Linked DNA regions of Homo sapiens. The protein of the gene in region 1 interacts with the protein of each later gene in a pairwise test. Each region holds a gene or a part of one and is shown in the gene's direction. Other genes may lie near its edges.

What was found.
Region 2: the proteins of RFX6 (region 1) and KIF1A interact in a two-hybrid assay, tested with the Homo sapiens proteins (one large-scale study listed by BioGRID and IntAct).

Annotation. Positions count from the first base shown.
Region 1 is NC_000006.12:116,918,605-116,922,420, forward strand, and holds part of RFX6 (DNA-binding protein RFX6), read left to right. Parts: intron 1-532; coding exon 533-692; intron 693-1,705; coding exon 1,706-1,850; intron 1,851-3,437; coding exon 3,438-3,547; intron 3,548-3,816. UniProt on the Homo sapiens protein: Transcription factor required to direct islet cell differentiation during endocrine pancreas development. Specifically required for the differentiation of 4 of the 5 islet cell types and for the production of insulin.
Region 2 is NC_000002.12:240,719,177-240,722,992, reverse strand, and holds part of KIF1A (kinesin-like protein KIF1A), read left to right. Parts: intron 1-336; coding exon 337-537; intron 538-1,108; coding exon 1,109-1,186; intron 1,187-1,954; coding exon 1,955-2,079; intron 2,080-3,066; coding exon 3,067-3,219; intron 3,220-3,794; coding exon 3,795-3,816.

The DNA of each region.
Region 1 (3,816 bases):
AAAAAAGCCAACTTTTTCTCTGAAAACAAAATCTAATGAAATGATAAAATTTATTTTAGTATTTTGGGGGTACAAATTCATATAGGACTGGACATAGTTGGTGCTCCAAAAATAGATGTTGCTTGGTAAAACAAATTTTACTTTTTATTTACCTTTTCCTCCAGATTATTTCATCTATATGATAGTTGGTATTAGCCTGATCAATAATGTCTTTTAATTATCAATTGTAGTCTTTAAATATCTATTCTGTACTCTGAATTGGGTACTTGAAGTGGAGTTTGAAGAGCTTGAGTGTTTTGACCAAGATGATAACAAAACATCTCATGTACCCCATAAATATATACACCTCCTATGCACCCACAAACATTTTAAAAATATAGCATAAGAAAAGATGATAAATGGCAGATCTAGGCTGTCTGACTTCAAAAGTACTGCTTATGAAACCATAGAATAATAGTATACCTCAATTAAAATATGATTGTTTAATGCATTTTTTAACAATGAAGCATTTAACACATAGCCTTCTTTGTAGCTTATTAGCAGACATAAGAAATTTTGCTAAAAATTGGGAACAGTGGGTTGTTTCATCCTTGGAAAACTTGCCAGAAGCTCTAACTGACAAGAAAATACCTATTGTGCGAAGATTTGTATCTTCTCTGAAACGACAAACATCTTTCTTACATCTTGCCCAGGTATGTTGGTTGCTAAGTCGAGAGCATTTGAGTCACCATATAAAAAATGAATCTTCTGAGAAGGACAGATTGAGGAACTTTCATAGATTGAAGGGAGCTAAGTAGACAACAACTAAATGCAACGTGAGACCCAGAAGTGAATGCTATGATAGAAAAAGCACATTAGTGGGAAAGCTGGTGAAATTTGAATTATGTCTGTAGTTAATAGTATTGTACCAATGTTAATTTCATAATTTGGGTAATATACAATAGTTACAGAAGATGATAAGAAGCTGGATGGAGAGTATATGGAAATATTCTGCACTATCTTTGCAACTTCTCTGTGATTGGAAATTTAAAAAACTTGAATGCAATTAAACATTTATTTGCCATGTGAATCTAATTGGTACAAATTAAGGTTGTGAGAAGTAAGCCTGTGTGATACTTAATATTGTGAAACCACAAACTCAACACATTTTAAACTGCCGACTAATCATGGCTCTTTTAAATAGAGCAAAAGTAATTCATAAGTTAAGAATGATGCATTTGTATATTGTTAAAATATATTTCTCTTTCCCCAAAATGATTATCTGCTTTATGAAGGTTTCTTGCCTTCTAAATTTTAAAAGACAAGCTTGAGATGATTTCAGATAGGAAATGTAACATTTAAAAATTCTTATTTTGTGATCATGGACAAAGAGAATCCATTTATATTTTCTTTTTCTATTTTTTATTATACTTTAAGTTTTAGGGTACATGTGCACATCGTGCAGGTTTGTTACATATGTATACATGTGCCCTGTTGGTGTGTTGCACCCATTAACTCATCATTTACATTAGGTGTATCTCCTATAATTTTCAGACTTTTAACAGAGATGATCATGAGTCTCAGCTACTGCTTTTGTCTTTAAAATAAGAAAAAAGTTATTTATGATACTTTTATCTCAAGGAACTATTTTTCTGATAGCTAAAAATTTCTTCTAGATACATTAGAAATGATATAGTGTAGTGTCTTCTTTACTTTCTCTATGCAGATTGCCAGACCAGCTCTCTTTGACCAGCATGTCGTTAATTCTATGGTGTCTGATATTGAAAGGGTTGATTTGAACAGCATTGGCTCTCAAGCCCTTCTTACCATTTCAGGCAGCACAGACACTGAATCTGGTATCTACACTGAACGTAAGTCCATTCTCTTTGTTTAGAACAAGGTTTTCTAAGCTCAGAAAATTGACATCTTGAGCTGGGTAACTCTGTTGGAGGAGCCTGTCCAGTGTGCTGTAGGATGTTTAGCAGCATCCTTGACCTTTACCCATTAGATGACAGTAGCAGCCTCCCCCAAGCTGAGACAACCAAAAATGTTTCCCCACATTGTCAAAGGTGTTCTGGGCTGAAAAATCACATCTGATTGAAAAAAAACCTGGTTTATAAAAATATTTTTAATTAAAAAAATTTATCTTCTAATAAAAAATAGTTATAATTACTCACCATGGAAAAGATAGAAAATATTGAGGAAAATAAAAGTCATCTGTAATTTCATTACCTAGAAATAAATGAAATGGAAATAATCTGAAAATAATCAAATTGTTTTGAGTTTTGTAAGTTTTCTTTCAGTTTTACATTACATGTATAGAAATTTACATGTGTTTTATAGTCTTGTCATCCTGTGGTGTGTGATAAATATCAAAATGGTATCTCAGCACAATACTGCTTTTCAAAGCAGACTCTCTACTCAGGTTTGGACCATCTGAGAGAGCTTACCAAGCCAATATGCATGGCTAGACAACTAGGCTTGAATTTCAAGGGATAACAGCCACTATTTTTTCCTCCCTCTGTCTTTGAAAAGACAAAACCTGCAGCCTCCTATACACTGGAGCACAAACTATGGACTGCTCTCTGGGGCCCAATCTCAACTCCACTTTTTATTTCCTAACATAAAATAGGATTACCTTTTGAGATTCAGTAAACCTTAAAACCTTTAATAAAAGGATAGTCTTAAACTGCCCTTTTAAATATTACATGATAAAACGTTATTCAGGTAAATGGCTCAATTCTGCTGAGAAGAAATTAACTTTTACTAAAGATAAAAGATATTTTGGAAAGCAGGAAATCACCAAGCTTAGGTTCATTCATTCACTTTTAACTAATCTGTTCCGTTTAATGAAAACACTAGACTCAAAATGAATATTTAACTACATAAACAACTTAATCTTCCCTAGTATGTGAATACACATATAAGATTTAAACCTATATTTCAATATATACCAAGATATATACACTTATTAAAATTTCGGGCACACTTCAAGAGGCTGAGGTGGGAAGATTGCTTGATCCCAGGAGTTCAAGGCCAGCCTGGGCAACACAGCAAGACCTTGCTCTATAATTTTTTTTTTTTTTTAATTTAGGCAGGCTTGTTGGTGCGTGCCTGGAGTCCCAACTGCTTGGGAGGCTGAGGCAGGAGGGTCACTTGAGCCCAGGAGTTTGAGGCTGCAGTAAGCCATGATCACGTCATTGCACTCCAGCCTGGGCAACAAAGCAAGATCCTGTCTCTCTCTCTCTCACACACACACCATTGAAGAGTACAGTACTAAGGATTTTTTTGTTACTGTTTTCAAGATATGATATTAATTCTTTTCACACATTTATCTGTCTTTCCCTTTCATGCTATCAAAGTATTGATGATTCCAAGTTTTAGGTTTTCTCTTGGATTCCAAGTAGAGTACAATATTCTGTTTTCTTTTCTTTCTTTTTTTTTTTTTTCCTGGGTAGATGACTCTATCACTGTGTTCCAAGAACTGAAGGATCTCCTTAAGAAGAATGCCACTGTGGAGGCTTTTATTGAATGGTTGGATACTGTGGTAGAACAGAGAGTTATTAAGGTACTTTTTAATGACAGATTCAGAAAATAAGTTCCTTGTAAAGAGTAAATGCTAAACTGGCTATAATTTTTTGTCTGGGGGGAGAGGGGTGGAAGGCTGTGTGTGTAAAGGCTTTGAAAAGCTTTTGATGCTCTACGAATAAGGCAGGCCAAATACTGAAATTAGGAATATGTCAAGATTTGAGAGCATTGGGCATGGATTCCATTATATTTCTCCTTTCTTGCCGAAAGACTACAAGATGCTCTGCCTTCCCTATCAGTCAATAACAT
Region 2 (3,816 bases), on another chromosome or scaffold:
CCACCCCTCGGCCCTCTCCTGAGGCCTCCAGCACTGCAAGGCAGCACAGCCCTGCCCCAGAACCTGGCGCGTGAGATGGATGTGTCTGAGAGGAGCAGCTTGCTTGCTGCCCATGAAGGTGGCAGGGCTGGGGTGGGGGCTGAGGGCTGTCAGCCCCGGGGCGCCAGGGTCTGTTCCCTCATTTCACAGCTGAGGGCTGTCAGTCTTCAGTCTTAGCCCAGGGGAGGGTGGGCTCTCCGGGGTCTGCCCAGAGGGTCATGCTGCTGCTGAGGCTGAGCACAACTCCGGAGGTCACCCCTGAGGTGCAGCAGGTAAGGCCTTGTGTCCTGTCTGAAGGTGGAGAAGACTAGGCACTACCTGCTCCTGCGGGAGAAGCTGGAGACCGCCCAGCGGCCTGTCCCGGAGGCACTGTCCCCGGCCTTCAGCGAGGACTCTGAGTCCCATGGCTCCTCCAGCGCCTCCTCCCCGCTCTCGGCTGAGGGCCGCCCATCACCCCTGGAGGCTCCCAACGAGAGGCAGCGGGAGCTGGCCGTCAAGGTGGGTCCAGCTGGTGGGCAGTACAGCCGTAGCCCCAGGCCCTCAAGGGCCCTGAGTCATTTCTGGGCAACTCCAGCAACCCGGCCTTGCCCATGGCTGCTCTGGTTAGCACCACCAGGAGCTAGGAGCTTGAGGGGTCCCTAGGGTCCCCTTGCCCACTGACTGCACCCCACCTGCACTGAAAGTTGGGTGCCTTTTGCAGCCTCCCTTCCCAAGCGATGAATCACTCTCTTGAATACCTGTGCTGATGGGGAGCTCACCACTTCCACCCACAAGTGGCTCTTTTGGCGGCTGAACGGGCCTCTGGGAAGGCTTCCTGCGCCTCCTGCACTGGAGGCAGCACAGCCTCTGGCCCTCACACCAGGCCCTCAGCCGGTGCCTGACCCTGGGAGACTTCCTGGGCTCACCCGATGACCTGGGCGGGGTGGAGGTGCTGCCCACCTTGACCCACTGTGCTCTGGCGTCGGAACCCACCTGTGTCTGGGGAGGGGTGGGTAGAAGAGCCTGCAAGGCTGTCTGAGCAGGGTCCCGGGAGGCCTGGCCCCTGACCACGCGTGTGCTCTGTCCACAGTGCTTGCGCCTGCTCACGCACACATTCAACAGAGAGTACACACACAGCCACGTCTGCGTCAGTGCCAGCGAGAGCAAGGTGGGTGCAGAGGGGCTGCACCAGGCTGCCCCGCAGGGCTCGGGCTCCCATAGGCAGTGGTCCCTGAGGAAAACTCCCATTCCAAGTGGGAAAAGGCAGTTAAGAGTTTCCTAGGAACACGTCTCAGTGCAGAGGGACACCTCATACCTAAGTGGCTGGTTTCCCTGGGTCGGCCTGGGGTCCATGGGAGGTGGGGATGTGAGTGAGGGGCCGGGTGGGTCCTGTGGCCTTGGATGCACCCATGCACTTGCAGGCTTCTGCTGTCTTCCTGGCCCCCACCCTGTCTGGCCATCACCCTGTGGCCTCTGGCCCAGTCAGTCAAGCTCCCACTTGGCTGTCCCTCCTCCTCCTGGGACCGACCCCACCCCTGTAGCCTGGGAAACTGCTGCTGTGCTGCATTATGCGTGGAGCTCCAGCCCTGGCCCATGGCCTTCCTTGTCCCCATGGCATCACCCAGCGCCACCTCACGCTGGCATGGGCAGGAGGCGGCAGGGCAGAGCTTACCCAGCCCACTCCTCGAGGCATTGGCAGGGTGGCTGCCTGGGTCAGGCCAGAGCCTGAAGTGATGGGAGGGGCCGGCCAGGGGCCACAGGGGCTGGAGGGGGCCGGGGGTCTTGAGCTGGCCAACTTTGAGCCAAGGCTGCTGGTAGGAGGGGTGGGGTGCCCTAAGCAGCAGGTGTGGGGTAAGCGCAGGCACAGGGAGCAGCTCCCACAGAGGCCGGAGACCCCCCTTCCCTGTGTCCCCTGAAAAAGGCCTCTCCTCCGCAGCTCTCCGAGATGTCTGTCACCCTGCTCCGGGACCCGTCGATGTCCCCTCTAGGGGTGGCCACTCTCACCCCCTCCTCCACTTGCCCCTCTCTGGTTGAAGGGCGGTACGGTGCCACTGACCTGAGGTGAGTGAGCTCCAGGCTCCCGGAGTGGCTTCTGGCACCACGGCTGACCCATGACCATGGCCGTGACTCGGGCACAGAGAGCACAGAACAGGGGGCCCCAATGGCCGAGTGCCTTGGGGTGGCCACAGGCTGAGGGAAGGGCCTGGAGGAGTGGAGTCCGCAGCCCTCTCAGAGGGTGCCTGTGCCCCGCCAGCTCCATCCTAGTGTGTGTGTGTTCTCTTCCCTGAAGAAGACCAGAAATGGGTGGAAAATAAGCTAAAGCTCCCCTTTCCTGAGACAGTGCTTATAAAATAATGGAAAAAGAAAAGGTTACGAAAGAGGGCATGAGAGCCGTTAGAGTCAGTATTGTGGAGGGGACACCTGGCCCCTGCAGGTCCGCATTTGGAAGAGACCTCGTGTGAACCCCTTATGTACAATTCATAAGCAGGCAGATGCTTTTCACTCTTGTTTTAAGCGCCTTAAGGGTTCCAGATTTTCATTTAAATAAGAAAGACGGTGGCATCAGCTGGCCTTGTCTTCTGCAGGCCTCCTTGACCACCAGGTCGAGTCGCGTGGGGCCTGGCCCATGTGGGGGGCCCATGCGGGAGGCCATCGGCACCCTCTGCTCCAGTGGCTCCTTGGAACCTCGTGTCACCTTCAGTCTAGTTGTGGAGATGAAGAGATGCTGGACTTGCTTTCACAGGGTGGAGGTGGGGGCAGGAGAGCCACTGGGAGAAGGGCGTGGAGTGGGGCACAGGCTCCCTGGCTGGGCCCCGAGGTTCCTGGGGGACCCTGCCCACCAAGCCCAGCACTTCCTGGAATCGGGCACAAGCTTGGCTATCCTGGTGGACGGGCCCCGGGAGCTCCCACTGTGGGCACAGCTGGAGAGACCCTGCGAAGGTGCCCTACTGCACCTTCTGAGGTGCTCTGAGGAGGGTGAAGCCTGGGGGAAGACGGCCCCAGGCCCAGGGAGGCCTGCAGTGGGCAGCACTTCCCTCTGCTTCCCAGGACCCCGCAGCCCTGCTCCCGGCCAGCCAGCCCAGAGCCCGAGCTGCTGCCAGAGGCCGACTCCAAGAAGCTCCCTTCCCCTGCCCGGGCAACAGAGACAGACAAGGAGCCCCAGCGCCTGCTGGTCCCTGACATCCAGGAGATCCGAGTCAGGTGTGTGGGGCCTCCCTGGAAAGCACCGCCACCAGCTCTGTGCTGACAGGGGACAGGCAGGCCACCCTGCTCCCCATACTGGGGGCACAGGGACCCTCATACTTGGGGAGACAGACAGGTTGCCTGATGCCCATACTGGAGGTTCAGGCAGGCTGCCCCTGACCCACATGGAGGGACAGCTCCATGCTGGGAGGTCAGGCAGGGCCCTGTGACCCACATGCCTAGGCTGGGAACCAGCACAGAGCACAGGGGAGTGGGTGGGGTCAGAGCCAAGGCCCAGGTGGGGAACTCGTGGTCACTGGGTACAGTGTGACAGCCTTCAGCAACTTTAGCTTATTTCTTTAAGTTTTTCCATTTTATGGTGGGGAAACTGAGGCCCAGAGCTGGCTTGGTGGTCTGGTCTCCGGCCTGCTGGGTTGGGGTTCTGCCAGGTGCCCTTCGATGCCTCGACCCACTTTCTGGCTGGGGAGGTGGTTGGCACTGCTGCGTCCCAGCTCTGGGTGGTAGATGGTGAGTGCCCGAGTCAGTCGCTGCCCCCACCGAGGGCCCCAGCGAGCAGCTCTCTCTGCCTTCAGCCCGATCGTTTCCAAGAAGGGG